Homo sapiens: one gene and its partner. The protein of the gene in region 1 binds, or shares a complex with, the protein of each later gene. Each region holds a gene or a part of one and is shown on either strand. Other genes may lie near its edges. A codon is read from its position in the direction of its gene.

What was found.
Region 2: the proteins of SEC31A (region 1) and PDCD6 are in contact, whole or in part, in a crystal structure (PDB 3WXA), measured with the Homo sapiens proteins. Residues at the interface, in NP_001070675.1 of Homo sapiens: Asn837, Pro838, Pro839, Pro840, Pro841, Gly842, Phe843, Ile844, Met845; in NP_037364.1 of Homo sapiens: Val31 (codon at 5,590), Val35 (codon at 6,491), Leu48 (codon at 6,530), Ala51 (codon at 6,539), Leu52 (codon at 6,542), Ser53 (codon at 6,545), Asn54 (codon at 6,548), Gly55, Thr56, Trp57, Phe85, Trp89, Ile92, Gln96, Phe99, Phe148.

What each region holds. Positions count from the first base shown.
Region 1 is NC_000004.12:82,873,877-82,881,753, reverse strand, and holds part of SEC31A (protein transport protein Sec31A), read left to right. Parts: intron 1-831; coding exon 832-955; intron 956-2,825; coding exon 2,826-3,024; intron 3,025-5,931; coding exon 5,932-6,027; intron 6,028-7,002; coding exon 7,003-7,143; intron 7,144-7,877. UniProt on the Homo sapiens protein: Component of the coat protein complex II (COPII) which promotes the formation of transport vesicles from the endoplasmic reticulum (ER).
Region 2 is NC_000005.10:266,222-274,894, forward strand, and holds the start of PDCD6 (programmed cell death protein 6), read left to right. Parts: upstream 1-5,424; 5' UTR 5,425-5,499; coding exon 5,500-5,600; intron 5,601-6,489; coding exon 6,490-6,551; intron 6,552-8,673. UniProt on the Homo sapiens protein: Calcium sensor that plays a key role in processes such as endoplasmic reticulum (ER)-Golgi vesicular transport, endosomal biogenesis or membrane repair.

The DNA of each region.
Region 1 (7,877 bases):
CTGGCAAGTTACTGACATTCTATCAGCCAAGTTTAGTGTTCTTCCTCTGTGTTCCCATAGCATTTTGATCATGATGTGTTACATCTAAAATATTTTCCTTCACAGGAATTGTATTTTATCTTTATTCCTCCAGTATTAAGCACAATAGATGGCATGTAAAAAAAACAGTTAATATCAGTTTGAATGAATGAAGAGCAATTTTGATGTTAGCATTTTTATATAAAAAGAAATAGTTATATCATATATGTCTATAAGCAGATATAGTAAATCACGGGACTTTTTTTTTTTTGAGATGGAGTCTTGCTCTTTCGCCCAGCCTGGAATGCAGTGGCGTGATCTCTGCTCACTGCAAGCTCCACCTCCCTGGTTCCTTCCATTCTCCTGCCTCAGCCTCCCAAGTAGCTGGGACTACAGGCGTCCACCACCATGCCTGGCTAATTTTTTGTATTTTTAGTAGAGATGGGATTTCACCATGTTAGCCAGGATGGTCTTGATCTCCTGACCTCATGATCCACCCATCTCGGCCTCCCAAAGTGCTGGGATTACAGGCATGAGCCACCGTGCCCAGCCCCCATCACGGGACCATTTTTACAGAGATTTTTAAATATATACAGGCTTAAAAAATTATTTACACTACCCACTCTTATAAACATCCTCTCCTAGCCCTGTGCCAGAATCTCATTGCTATAGTAATTTAAGCATCTGCTCAATGGCATATGTGCAGCATTCATGAGCAAGAGAATGGAAAACATGCTTTTAACTTCTGTTTTGTATGGTTTCTCTGATCTTTTATTTTTGTGTGTATAGTTACCATAAATATATTTTCTATAGGAACATCTGCTCAGCAATTGGATGCAACATTTAGTACGAATGCTTCCCTTGAGATATTTGAATTAGACCTCTCTGATCCATCCTTGGATATGAAATCTTGTGCCACATTCTCCTCTTCTCACAGGTATGAGGTTCAGCTTTAAATTCATGTGATTATTTAATTATATATTGTTCTTGATTCCTAATTTGTCTATAATTATGCCATTATTAGAAACTACAAGGAATACCATCAAGAACATGAAATATTTTGTGAAAAAGCATGTGAGTGAATTTTTATGGAAGTAAAAGTAGTGTTTATGTGTTCTATTGACTTTTTTTTTTCTTTTTTTTTTTTGAGACAGAATCTTACTTCATAGCTCAGGCTGGAGTGCAGTGGCACGATCTCGGCTCACTGCAACCTCCACCTTCCAGGCTCAAGCAATTCTTGTGCCTCAGCCTCCCGAGTAGCTGGGATTACAGGTGCACACCACCTTGCCCAGCTAATTTTGTGTCTTTAGTAGCGACAGGGTTTTGCCATGTTGGCCAGGCTGGTTTTGAACTCTTGACCTCAAGCAATCCACCCACCTTAGCCTCCCAAAGTGCTGAGATTATAGGCATGAGGAATCACGCTTGGCCAGTATGTTCTGTTGGCTTTTTTATTGCTGTTACATGTAAGGTAGGAAGGAGAGGCTGTAGTTTCTAGCATTTTTTTCTGTTTTTTTGGTGTGTGTGTGGTTTTTTTTGTTTTTGTTTTTTTTTTGAGATGGAGTTTCACTCTTGTTGCCCAGGCTGGAGTGCAATGGCGCAATCTCGGCTCACCACAACCTCTGCCTCCTAGGTTCTAGCAATTCTCCTGCCTCAGCCTCCCGAGTAGCTGGGATTACAGGCATGTGCCACCATGCCTGGCTAATTTTGTATAGAGTTCTTTTTTCTATCTCCTTTATTGTGCCTGTTTACAAAAAGGTAGATGTGACTAGAAAAGGAGTAGTCATCGTAAGTATTAATAGTGATTATCTCTGAATGGTAGCTTATTTTTATTTTCTTCTGTTACGATATTTAGAAATATATCTCACAGTTTTGTTGACACGATTTCTAATACACTAGGTAACTAGGTATTTGGATCATACTTTCAAGTACTTATGCCCTATTGTAATGCAGAGAAAGGAGGTCTTCATTTCAGTAATAAAATAAGCTTTATTGCCTCAATATATTAGCAGGGTTTAAAGAGATTGCTCTTTAGCTGACAGAATATAGCTCAAATCATGCAGTTTCATGGGACCGCTCATATTCTTCAGAGCTGTCACAGTGGGATGGGAACCCCAGATACCTTTTGTCTAGTAGTTTTTCTGCTTACTACCATCTGTATCATCGTATACCTTTCTGCCTTCATATTTCATCTCCATTCTGGACCATATATTTTATTCTCTAATAGTAGGGGTACTTGTTATAATCTTGATGTCATTTTTCTACCATTAGAATACATTCTTTTTCTTAGAAAATTTCACATGACTCCTTTAACACCTTTACTATTTAACAGACCACTTGTTAGTGACCCCCCCTTTTTTTTTTTTTCAGACAAAGGTCAAAGCATGAGACCCTTCTATAGTCAAATAAAGAGTGTTTTTACCTTTCGAGGGAAGTGATTGATTAGCTCTATTTTACAATGAACCAGAGGCAATTTAAGAAGATTAAGTAACTTAGGGTCTCACAGTTTCTAAATGGTAAAATCATTCTTAAGCTCATATTTTTTGACACACAACTCAAGTATATTTTGTTACACTACCTTACAAGAGTTTTTACTCTTTAAGGATTACAAAATCACATATGCAAATATGAGTATAAATAAAAAATGAAATACTATTACACCAAAGTCATACATAGTTACCAGGAGTGGTGGGAAAGTAATATATTTGGATTGTTTATGAAAACATTAAAAATTAAGTGTATAATTTCAATTTTTTGTCTACATTTATTTGACTTTAAGAATGAATGATTTTATTCATTTTCTCCTGTAGGTACCACAAGTTGATTTGGGGGCCTTATAAAATGGATTCCAAAGGAGATGTCTCTGGAGTTCTGATTGCAGGTGGTGAAAATGGAAATATTATTCTCTATGATCCTTCTAAAATTATAGCTGGAGACAAGGAAGTTGTGATTGCCCAGAATGACAAGCATACTGGCCCAGTGAGAGCCTTGGATGTGAACATTTTCCAGGTTAAGACTTTAACATTTCATAATTCTTAGACTATGTGCTGCTCATTTGAAATCAGTATATGAATCTACTATGCCTCAGTTTTGGAATTGAAAGTTAAAAAACTGTGGCTATACAGGTTGACGAGTGTTTGTTTAAAGAATGGTGGGTTCAGAGTTGAGATCAGGGTTAAAAATACTACCTCCATGAAAAGGATCCGGCTGATAGGTTTTTGTTTTTGTTTTTGTTTTTGTTTTTTTGAGACGGAGTCTCGCTCTGTCACCAGGCTGGAGTGCAGTGGCATGATCTTGGCTCACTGCAACCTCTGCCTCCTGGGTTCAAGTGATTCTCCTGCCTCAGCCTCCCGAGTAGCTGGGATTACAGGCGCCTGCCACCACGCCCAGCTAATTTTTGTACTTTTAGTAGAGATGGGGTTTCACCATGTTGGCCAGAATGGTCTCGATCTCTTGACCTTGTGATCCGCCCGCCTCGGCCTCCCAAAGTGCTGGGATTACAGACGTGAGCCACTGTGCCCAGCTGGCTAATAGGTTTAAGTCTGAAGATGTCACGCCATTTGATTAGACATTTTATAAACATTAAGATCCCTATAGGTTGGAAACCTTGCCTTTTAAAAGTTCATGCTAGGTCAGCATTAGGCTGGTGCTGTGATGTCCAGGTTAATTCACTGTTTTATTAATTGAGAAATTTTATGTTTATGACAGAGATTAATACTCTATGAAATAATTAGAAATTAAATGTAATGGCTGGGCATGTGGCTCACACCTGTGTAATCCCAGCACTTTGAGAGGCCGAGGCAGACAGATCATGAGGTCAGGAGTTCGAGACCAGCCTGGCCAACGTGGTGAAACCCCGTCTCTACTAAAAATACAAAAATTAGCCGGGCATGGTGGCAGGCACCTGTAATCCCAGCTATTCGGGAGTCTGAGGCAGGAGAATCGCTTGAACCCGGGAGGCGGAGATCGCAGTGAGTTGAGATCGTGCCATTGCACTCCAGCCTGGGCAACGAGCAAAACTCAAAAAAAGAAAAAAGAAATGTAATGCAGATTTAACAAATAGTCAATTAAGATTCTTTGTACTGTTGCCTTCATAAACATTTCTGGTTGTTAATTATATAAATGCACAGCTTAATAACGATCTTAGCCTGAACAGGATGGTGAAACCCTGTCATTACAAAAAATGCAAACAATTAGCAGAACATGGTGGCACACGCCTGTAGTCTCAGCTACACGGGAGGCTGAGGTAGGTTGATGGCTTTAGCCTGGGAGGTCTACGCTGCAGTGAGCTATGATCACACCACTGCACTGCAACCTGGGTGACACATAGAGACCCTGTCTGGAAAAAAAAAAAAGACCTTGAGTTAATAGGATACTAGATTATAACAACCAAAAATGAGTATTAAGAAAATTTTAAATAGTTCCTTTTCTTATATTATAAATAGATACTTAGGGTATAGCAATACAGAAACCCAACTTGTTTATTTCTTTTTTGTTGTTGTTTTTTGTTTTTTGAAACAGCGTCTTGCTCCCTCTGCCAGGCTGGACTGCAGTGGCTCATGACTCACTGCAGTCTTGACCTCCTGGGCTCAAGCAAGTCTTCTGTCTCAGCCACCTGAGTAGCTGGGACTACAGGCATGAGCCACAACACCTGGCTAATTTTTGTAGAGACAGGGTTTTTTCGTGTTGGTCAAGCTGGTCCCAAACTCCTGGGCTCAAGTGGTCTGTCTGCCTCAGCCTCCCAAAGTGCTGTGACTACAGGCATGAGCCACTGTGCCCAGCCTTCGTTTCTATAGTTTGTGGTATCTGCTCTTTAGCTAACTCCTTTGTTAATTGTATTGAACAGCTGATGATTTTTAATAAAGTATTTTGTGTTATAGGTAGCTACTACCATAGAATGTCTCCCTTTTTTTAGTTATATGCCAACTGATAGAGAATAATTTGTAAGAGTAAATAGTAGTGGATGAAGGTCAGTATATGAAGCCCATTATCTTCCTGTACTTTATATTACAATTTCAGGTTCTTTTTGACCCTTAAGGTATGTACCAGAGAAAACCTAGAAATATTGCCACCTGGAATAAGATTGAGTGTATATGAACTAGAAATATGTGAAGAGTTATGACAAGAGATTTTACTAGTGCTGTATTGATTCAGCTCTGGAAGCTGGCTTTGAGGTATCCTGAGAAAGATGCCACAGTTTTAGGATTCAGCTTTTTCTGAAAGCAATAATTGATGACCTTTTTAATCTTATAATTAAATCTCCTTCCAGAGATGCAAAGATACAAACAGTAATCCTCACATGGTTGCATGACTGATTAAGAATTTATCCAGCCAGGTTTGGTGGCTCACGCCTGTAATCCCAGCACTTTGGGAGGCCGAGGCAGGTGGATCACCTGAGGTCAGGAGTTTGAGACCAGCCTGACCAACATGGAGAAACCCCGTCTCTACTAAAAATACAGAATTAGCCGGGAGTGGTGGTGCATGCCTGTAATCCTAGCTACTCGGGAGGCTGAGGCAGGAGAATCACTTGGACCCGGGAGGCGGAAGTTGTGGTGAGCTGAGATTGCACCATTGCACTCCAGCCTGGGCAACAAGAGCAAAACTCCATCTCAAAAAAAAAAAAAAAAAAAAGAATTTATCCATATAATTTTTAAAATAATATCTTGCATTAAAATTAATTTGTTCTCAGTAGACATCTTTTGTCTTTGTTAAGTAGAATTTTATGTTTTTCTAGAAAACTTTAAATTTTGAAAGAATTATGCATAATTTAGAAATTCATGCATATGTTTTTCACTTTTCAAATTAAATAGAAAAATTGTGTATGCTACATCTAATATCTTTCTAGCTCTGAACTGAGTTATTCTGAATTTTCTTAATTATTCATAAGTGCTATTTAGTTATGGTTTCTTCTTGCAGACTAATCTGGTAGCTTCTGGTGCTAATGAATCTGAAATCTACATATGGGATCTAAATAATTTTGCAACCCCAATGACACCAGGAGCCAAAACACAGGTATTTTTATATTGATTTTGATCATTGTAATCAAAAAAGCCAAAAGTAGTTCTCCTAAACCTACTTATTTCACTTTTAAGGCTTCTCACACAAAACATATATGTTTAAAATCATTGTTTAGATATTACTGATTTTTCTTCAGTAATTAATAAATATGTTTCTTCAAAGTATCAGTGAGTCCATCAAGAGTAAATATTTATTTAGTACCTACCACCTGGTAGACACTGGTCATTGTACTAGGCATACAGTAGTAAACAAAATGAACAAAAATCCTTAATAATTGTCTTAGATATAGTATAATTATTTTTGTTCTTTGTGTGATAGTTGCTCTGTGTTTTGGCAACAACCAACCTTCTTAAAACACACTTAGACAAGACCATGGAAGACAAGGTTTAAAATAAATACCTCAAGCCCTTTGCTTGTGTATTTCTATTAAGTTTGGTAACAACAGTCTTCTCCTGTTCTTCCCTGAGTTTCTTTATGTTGTATAGGCTATCCAACTTGAGTAGCCATTGTAACTGGCTCTAACATTTTGGCAATCTGAGAGGTAGCATAATGACAGCATATGCACTACCATTTATAAAGGTATTTTGCTAATGGTCTAGGCTGTAATTTTGCCCTGCCTAGTTTTCTGTCATAGTCACCAACATCTACTTTGTGGTCCATAATCTACCTTGCAGCAGTTGCAAAGTAAAGAAACAGTACTTGGTTTATAGCAGAAATTCAATAAAATTCTTGTTGAATGAGATATTATGAAACAAGATAATACACTTGAAGTGGTATGTACCTGCATTTTAAGTCATATAATTTTATGTGTTGAGAATGTAGAGATGTAGGACTATAAAGCAAATTTGTGGCATAAATGGATCAGATTTTTAAGTAATACACTTTTCAAAATGAAGGATCCAATTTTACAGTTAAATTTGATTATAATAGAGAAACAAGCAGTTTTTATTAACTGTTTCTTCCTTGTAGCCGCCAGAAGATATCAGCTGCATTGCATGGAACAGACAAGTTCAGCATATTTTAGCATCAGCCAGTCCCAGTGGCCGGGCCACTGTATGGGATCTTAGAAAAAATGAGCCAATCATCAAAGTCAGTGACCATAGTAACAGAGTAAGTATGTGATTGACTTGTGATGAACATGTTGTATTTCTGCTGTAGGTATTCCTATATTGTTTGTCAGAGTTGACAACAAATCAAATTTCTGTGAAGTCAAATCCTGTTTTTTTATTAATCAGTCATGTTAGAAGGAATGTTTTGTTTTTTTTCCTCTAAGGGAAAATCATAAAATTCCCAATAAATATGTTGGATATTATTAATGATGAAGAGAGATTGGTTAATCAAGGAACTTATTCCATGATATACTGGTGGTTTTGCTTTGCTAGCTGTTTTAAAACATTGCAGCAACTTTTTTTTTTTTTTTCTTGAGACGGAGTCTCGCTTTGTCGCCCAGGCTGGAGTACAGTGGCGTGATCTCGGCTCACTGCAACCTCTGCCTCCTGGGTTCAAGCACTTCTCCTGCCCCAGCCTTCCGAGTAGCTGAGATTACAGGCATGCACCATCAAGCCCGGCTAATTTTTGTATTTTTGGTAGAGATGGGGTTTCACCATGTTGGTCTGGCTGGTCTCAAACTCCTGACCTCGTGATCTGCCTGCCTCGGCCTCCCAAAGTGCTGGGATTACAGGCATGAGCTTCTGTGCCCGGCCATTGCAGCAACTTTTTAATTCATCTTTAACTTTTCTTAGAATGTAAAAATTTTTCCTGCTGGAAGCTTCATCACTGTGAACTTGTAATATTTGACTTCTTGGCCTCATCTCTTCCTCTGATTAGGTACTGCTAAAATGAGC
Region 2 (8,673 bases), on another chromosome or scaffold:
AAAGTAAATCCTTTTGTAAACTAAGAGGAAGTATTAATATGGGCGTTTGAGCAAACATTTAAGTGTTAGGACAAAGAATTAAAAACTAGCACAGGCACCCCTGAAGCATGATAGGATGGCAACAGAAGGGCTGATTTAGTTTCCAAGAAATAACTGACAGGCAGTGTTGTGTGTGTGTCTACTGCTTAGGAACCCAAAACAAACCTTCAGACCATTTTCATGAGTACTGAGACCAGGAAAACCACTGGGCAGTGGGTGGTCTGGAAATGTAAATGTTTATAGTACTCCATGGAGTACTATATGAGTCATGGAACGATGTTTCATATTGAAAATGTTTTATAAATGTGGGTTTCAAGGTTTTAAAGTGAACCCATGTGTGTGAGGAGAAAGGACACACCAAAGAAGTAAAATAATTGGGTCAATATAAAAAGAAAGTAGAATATTGCCCAGAGAGGAGATGTGGATAATTCCTAACACGGATCAAAGGTGAGCTGTGTCTAAGACAGTCAGACCTGCACCGTCCCGTGCAGTAGACACCGTGGCCGCTGTGTCTGAGATATTCAGACCCTCGCCGTCCCGTGCAGTAGACACGGTGGCCGCTGTCTGTAAGATATTCAGACCCTCGCCGTCCCGTGCAGTAGACACGGTGGCCGCTGTGTCTAAAATATTCAGTCCCGTGCAGTAGACACGGTGGCCGCTGTGTCTAAGATATTCAGACCTGCACCATCCTGAGCAGTAGCCACAGTGGCAAGTAGCCTCTGCACTGGACAGTGCAGCTACAGAATGATGCTATCACTAGAAAGTTCCATCAGCCAGCACTGATGCAGACCTTTGCAAATGCCCCTCACACTGAATAGCACCTAGCTGATAGATTGTCCACTACTCAGTGAAAAGCCTGTGTTAAAAGCAGTATTTGGTAGAAAAGCAAAAAAGGGGAAAAAATTAAAAGTGGTAAGTCATTGTCTTCCTTACTGAATTCTAGCAGAAGAATGTTGGAAGGAAGATGGGAGTCACGGGAGAAAGTATCATTGTCCCAGGACAGGAGGGGGTGCCAGGCATGGTTGGCTCTGTCCCTGGAATTCTATGGCGGGAATCTGGAAAAAGGAAAAGTGACTGGAGAAGAAAAGATTCTGTGTGCAAATGTCATGATGCAGCCATCAGTCATCCTGAGAAAATAAGCGAACAAAGTGGCTTCAGATGGATGCTGTTGGATACATGTACAGATACAATGTACACTTGCATATGCTTGTTCACACAAAGGACAGGATGGTTATCTGTTCATTTAACAAATACTTGTTGAGGGCCTATATGTGCCAAAGACATCAGATGCATAAGAGGGTGCACTATGGAAAGCCTCAGGAACACAAGTGCCCAGAAACATTTAGAAAAATTCTAATGAAAACAGAAAAGGCATTTTCAAATTAGCTGAGAGAAACGAGACCAAAGGAAAGACTGACCCAGTATTTGGATACATTATGTGATGAACCTTAATGCAGGGAGGAAAGTGTTATCTTTCAGTTAATTTCTCAACTTCTGGAGAGCTTAGAACAGACCTGGCTAGGAGGAAATTGAATCTGAGGCAGATGAGGAGATAGTGGTGCCTTGATGCTTCCAGTGATTGGGTCAGCAGAACCAGGGGTGGGAGATGATCTCTCTTTTTGTTGGCAGATGGTGGTCTCTGCTGTAGCTTTGTCCCCTGGTGACGGGACTCAGGCAGCAACCCCCATCATTGGCAATACCCCCACCTCTGAGAATGTGGAGAGGACTTGTGAAGACAATGTTGTCCCAAGCAGCACAGCCCAGGTACTGACAGGATTCAGAGCTAGAGGTTTCTTAGAGGTCAGGGTTGTAGAAGCAGCAGGGACTGCAGCTGCATAGTTTGTGTATGTAACAGGCTAGTATCTCTTGTTCTAGACTCATCCATTTGTACATTCATATGAGTATGCACGCAGGGTGTTTTTTCTTTCTTTTTTTTTTTTTGAGACGGAGTCTCACTCTGTTGCCCAGGCTGGAGTGCCTGGTGCAATCTCGGCTCACTGCAAGCTCCGCCTCCCGGGTTCACGCCATTCTCCTGCCTCAGCCTCCCAAGTAGCTGGGATTACAGGCACCTGCCACCACGTCTGGCTAATTTTTTGTATTTTTAGTAGAGACGAGGTTTCACCATGTTAGCCAGGATGGTCTTGATCCACCCGCCTCAGCCTCCCAAAGTGCTGGAATTACAGCTGTGAGCCACCGCGCCTGGCCAGGGTGTTTTTTCTTTAAACCTTAATTTCATAGTAATTAACCTCCCTTTCAAGAGTCAGCCTTGCTGCCCCTGAGATGATGCAGAAAAAGCACAAAAGGATCTGGGCTTGAATCTCCTCTTACTGCCTGCTTGGCTTTAGGCAAGTTACCTTCTCTGAACTCTAGTTTTCTCTTCAGTAAAATGTGGATATGGTGCCTTGGCATGGGGAGGATTAAACAAAGCCACATATTTAAATATTATAAGGGTGGATTATATTTAAATATTAAAAGGGTGGATTCTAGCTGGTTGCATTCATTAAGTGTGTCCTCTCTTGAATGAAGGCATTTTCTACCCCTAGAACTAAAGGGAAAGCATGACGGAGCACTCCTGGGTGCCATGGGTGATGATGGCTGTGGTACTCCAGGTTGGAGACTCGGCCAACAGTTGGTAGAGCCCAACTAACTGTTGGGAGTGGAGGCTGAGGCCTGCTGCAGTCACTGAGATGCTCCCCCTTTTAAAAAATTTTAAAATAGCCCAAGCTAGTCTTGAAGTTCTGGCCTCAAGTGATCCTCCCACCTCAGCCTCCCAAAGTACTGGGATTATAGACATGAGCCACTGCGTCTAGCACTGAGCTGTTTCTTGCTGAGGTTTCCCTGTAAGAACTTCCAAATTGGGTCACAAAATCATAGTTGTTAGTATTTTCAGAGTTCTGGAGAACAAAACAGGAGCCAGTGATGGGAGGGAGAATAAAGATGGACTTCAGAAACTACAGCTCAAAGAGCTGTGGAAGATTCTAGAAAGGATTCTTCAACAAGTGATATGAATACTTTGTCAATGAAAAGGCTGAACCTCTGTGAAATACTTGAAGAGATTTATTCTGAGCCAAATAGAGTGGCCACGCCCATGACACAGACCTCAGGAGGTGGCTGGGGTGCAACTTGGTTTTATGCATTTTAGAGGGTCGTGAGACATCAATCAAATCTATTCAAGATATACATTGGTTCAGTCCAGAAAGGCAGGACAACTCAAAGTGGGGGCTTCTGGGTTATAGGTAGATTTAAAAATGTTCTGATTGGCAATTAGTTGAGAGTTATTACCAATAGAAAGGAATGTCTGGGTTATAAGAGGTTGTGGAGACCAAAGTTTTATCAGCAGAAGAAGCCTTGGGGTAGCAGGCTTCAGAGAGAATAGATGGTGTTTCTCATTAGACTTAAGGTCTGTGTTGGCTTTCCCTGAATTCCAAAAGGGAGGAGGGCATAGTCAGCCATGTCCCACCCGCCCCCACTTCATGTCGTGGCCTGAACGGTTTTCAGGTTAATTTGGAGTGCCCTGGCCCAGAGAAGGGGTCCATTCAGATGGGGTGGGGCCTTAGAATTTTACTTTTGGTTTACAACTTTATGAAGAGACCATTAGAAACCACTTGAATTCACATCATGAAAAAAAATCCACACTGTAAAAAAGGTTTGTAGATTAACACATTAGGTGAATGCCAAAGCCACAGAATATCTAAATTTCTCTGAGGAATTTGAAAACTCTCAGGTATATGCCTTGTGGACAAGAGAGACAGAAAAATGGGACAGAGGATGAGATAGTTTGGAGAATGGATAGCTGATCAGATCTGTAGCTGTGCCCAGAGTGCTGAATAATGGATTTGCGTCCACAGGGAAGAAAGTCTCAGGTGCCACTGATAAAAGACCACGTCCTTGGCTCTGGGTCCATTCAACATCTTGGTAGACAACTGAGTGAAAATTCAGAGACAACCCTAGGAAGTATGAGGATGAAAAAAGTTAGCATTCATGGAATGAGGCACTGAAGAAACTGAAAAGCTGAAATAACCCCATGAAATAATGAGAATAATTGTAGTATTCTGAACCGGGGCACAGGACACAGGACCGGGGTGGAAGGCGGCACGAGACTACGCGCGTGGGAAAGACCCAGGGATCACAGTGGCCCAAAGCTGGGCACTTCCCAATTCCGGGATTTGTGCTACAGGCACTCCAGGCTCCACCTTAGAACTGTGTCCAGCACGAAGGCAGTGCTGTCTTGCGGGAGGCAGGGCTGCACCACCACCGGGGTGTGAAGGGGCCCAGCAGGCAGGGGTGTGAAGGGGCCCAGCAGTGTTTCCAGCTGCACGGGGTCAGGGGCCGCGCTGATGCAGAGCACGGGGGCGCAGGTTAAACCTAAAGGAGGGAAGCTTTTGGGGGCGGAACAGACAACCGAGAATGCTGCACACTGCCTTTCCCACCCGAATTGTGTTTTGACTTTTTTTTTTTTTTTTTTTTGAGACAGAGTTTTGCACTTGTTGCCCAGGCCTGGAGTGCAATGGCCCGATCTCGGATCACTGCAACCTCCTCCTCCCGGTTTCAAGCAATTCTCCTGCCTCAGCCTCCCGAGTAGCTGGGATTACAGGTGTGCACCATCACGCCCGGTTAGTTTTGTATTTTTAGTAGATACGGGGTGTCTCCCAATTGGCCAAGGCTGGTCTCGAACTCCCGACTTCAGGTAATCCACTGGCCTTGGCCTCCCAAAGTGCTGGGATTACAGGCGTGAGCCACCGCGCCCGGCCTGCTTTTGCTTTCTTTTTTTTTTTTTTTTTTTTGGCAGAGTCTCGCTGTCCACCCCTGTAGTGCAGTGAGCTCGGCTCCCTGCGGCCTTGACCTCCCGGGCTCAGGCAATCCTCCCGCCTCAGCCCACGGAGTAGATGGGACCACAGGAGCCCACCACGCCCGACTACTTTTTGTAATTTTTGTAGGGATGGGGTCTATCCATGCTGCCCAGGCTGGTCCGAACTGCTGGGCTCAAGAGCTCCGCCCGCCTCCGCCTCCCAAAGGGCAGGGATCACAGGTGTGAGCTACCGCGCCCCGCCCAGAGTTTCCGACTGTTAGCAAATCACATTCACCTCAAAACTATTTATACAAGAACTGAAAGGCAAACTAAGTCCGTGCTCCATCACTTCCTGTCCCAGGTCGCGGGGCCGGACATTTTCTCCAAGCGCTTTCCTGGCACAGCGCGCAGGCGGCCTGCGCCAAAGCTCTGGCTTCCTCCAGGCGCCCAGACCCCGCCCTCCCCGCAGGCGCCAGGGCGTTGCCTGGCAACTTAGCTGCGAGGGGATTGGCTGCGCGGGACCCCGTGACCATCCCGGAGACCACGCATTTCCTGCGCCCCCGGAAGTGGTGATAATGCCAGGCCCTGCCCCCGGCAGAGGCGGAAGCGGAGTCGGCCTGAGAGGTCTCTCGTCGCTGCAGGCGCCTCAGCCCAGCCGCGTGCCTTGGCCCATGGCCGCCTACTCTTACCGCCCCGGCCCTGGGGCCGGCCCTGGGCCTGCTGCAGGCGCGGCGCTGCCGGACCAGAGCTTCCTGTGGAACGTTTTCCAGAGGTGCGGCCTGGCACCGCCCGGGCACCTCCCGCCTCCGCCGCGGCGGCCCCGACCCCTGTCCCGACTCCCCCGACCAACCCCGTTCCCTGCCGGTTCTACTGCGGCCTCCTCCGTCCCCTGTCGGGTCCCCCGCGGCCCCCTCCCGTCCCCTGCCGCCGCCCCCGACCCCTGCCCCAGCCGACGCGGCCGCCCCCGTCCCCTGGCGGGTCCCCCGCGGTCTCCCCCGTCCGCTGCCCGGTCTCCTGGGGCCGCCCCTGCCTCCTGCCCGGTCCCTGTCCTGTGCGTCGGGCCCTTCCCAAGATGCAGAGTGCGCCACTGCAGACCCGAGGTCGCGGCCACCGGCTCCTGGGCTAGGCCCTTTTTCTCGCCTCAAGAGCCGCCAGGTGGAGGGTCTCCAGGGTGCTTGTTTGGGGAAAGCGGAAACAGACTGCCTGGGCGCTGTTAAAATGTCAGCAGCCAAGGAAGAAGCAGCGACCTGGCGTCTGCTCGGGCCAGGTGACCTTTATGGCGGCGCCTTCTGTCCCTGGTCGCTTTTCCACCGAATGTCCGAAACTGTAGTGACTGATGGCCAGGGAATGGCTTAGTTATCTGAGGGAATCTTGTCTTGTCTGTGAAAAAGGGAAACGGGTGCAAATGGGAATTCAGACAGGCCAGGAGAGGAAGGAAGGGAAGGATTGAGGTGAAGATGATTGTCCTCTTAGGGGAAGACCACACTGGACGTCGGCTCCTGGGGCACTTCCTTGATTCCGCTGTACTCCTCAGCGGGACGGGAGAGGCGGAGGTTCCAGGAGGGAGCCTTCCAGAGTCGGTGCAGGGTTGACAGAAGACGTTTGTTTTGCTTTTCCTGAACTTTCGATCGCCAGCTTATTTGGTCTTCTTGATGTTATAGGGTCGATAAAGACAGGAGTGGAGTGATATCAGACACCGAGCTTCAGCAAGCTCTCTCCAACGGTGAGTGGGCCAGTGGGAACTGGGTCTCCGGACCAAGAAGCCGCGAGCCTGCCCTGTTCACAGTGGATAACTTTCTGAAGTTGTTTTTCCAAGGACAAAGGAATCATTAGGACAAATTGTTATTACTGCTTCGTAGTGGAGATGCTTCTGGTTTATTTTGTGGCTACCGCTGTTACTGCTTGGAGTGCCTCACCGAGCCAGCTAACAACTGCGTGCGTGAGCACAGGGAAAGGCTTCTTGAGAAATGAAAACTAGATTGTAGGTTTAGGAGGGGAATAGGAAGCTTAGCTCTGTACAGCCGAAAGCCTTTTGGTAAGTTGGAGGTCCTTGAATTTCCTGGGTGACTGCATCTTGGTGACTTCTCTGAATAGACCTTCGAGGGCACTGGGGGGTGATTGTTGGAGGGCTTGGGGAGCTCAGGCAGCCCTTGTATGGGAATGTGGCTGTTACAGGAACTGCAGAAACTGGGACTGGGTTCCTGGGGAAAGGATTGGGGGTGTTGGAGGCGCTGGCCAGGGGATTATGGGGAGGTGTTCTTATCAGTGTGCGAATACTGGGCGTTCAGGCAGCGGGAAATCCGGGTCCTTGCGTGTTGTGAGCTCCCTGGAATTACGTTCTTGCCAGTTTCAGCTCAGTTGATCCCCCTCCCCTCCGCTATCATTGGACACATTTTACTTCATTGAAACCTGACTGCCACTTTTTCTGTAATCCCTCAGGGGCAGTCATCTTTTCTGATTCTGTGTATAGTTTGCTTTTCCAGATCCGTGCCATTTAAGCTAGAAAAGGGGTCAGTTTTGAGATGTTGTGAAAATGTTGAAAGGCTTCTTGTTATTAGTGGGAAGTATCTGAAGTTGCCAGAGACTGAACTGGGGCGCGGGGAGCACTACGGCTGCTAGACACTGCCTCACTGCGCTGTGGGTGGGGGGGTGCTGGATTCAGCCTTACTGCCTAATGATTTGTGAGGATTTGTGTTTTCAGAGTAACATTTTTACCTTATATTACGACATCAGTTCCTAATATGTGGCGTGTGGGCCACAGATGCTGGTGTATTATTTCACATGCATTTCTATAGATTGTTTTCAGGGAATTCAGAAATGCTGTTATCTCTACACTAGTGATTGTGCTTTCTTGGTTTTTCTCTTTTCATTATTCTTAAATCCTCGTTTTTTTTTTTTTTATTTGCATCTCAGTTCGTTTTTACTCGGGAAGTGCAAGACGTGGCTACTAGAAAGAGATGTCAAGAGAACCCGGAATCCAGTAGGCTACAATTTGGCAAATCTCAGCTTAAAACTTCCTAAATGTTGACCACAGTGGATGCAAATGGCTCTGTGCATCACCTGTTAAATATGGTCAGATGACCATCCAGGTTCAAGTGGTTTGTCACCAGGGTGATACAAGCCACACGGAGTGCCCTCCTCAGAGGCCATGTTTCAGAGACATTTATTTTGAGTGGTTTTCCAATGAGTGATGCAAGATTTATGATCCATTTTAACAGCCTGCTTTTTATGCATTTGCTCTAATTTTTAGATTTTAGGTTTAGTTTTAGGTTTTCTGTTAAACTTGCTCAAATAGGAGTGGTGGTCAAATACTGGACCGCATTAGTATGGTAGCCTGCCCACCTTGGCAGGCTCCACTGGAGTGCTTTGGGGCCTGCCTGGATTCCAGTCCTGGCTCTACCAGTTTTGTGTCCTCGCCGTTACTGGGAGGGAGTATTGAGGAAATGCATGCGAGGTGTTTCCGTGATTCCTGGCACGGAGCAAGTGCTCAGTAATTGTCAGCTGTGAGTATTAGTAGTAGCTAATACACTGGTACTATTCTTGGCTAACAAGCCAGCTCAAAGCTTTGATGGTTTTCCATTACCTGATGATGGTGATGATGGTTTCCACTTACTCAACACTCACACGCTGGGCTAGGCACTTAACCCAAATCCAAGGTCAGCATTATTGTTTGGGGGTGGGGGAGACACCTCCTGCTCTGACTTGTGTGTTTGGGTTCCTGTATTTTCACCAGAGGGAGTTAGTCCTGCCCCAGTTCAGCTGGTCCTCAAAGTGTATATAGCTCTTTAACCATCAGCAAGTGTCTATCAGAACATAATCTTGATTTCAGCTGCTACTAAATATCT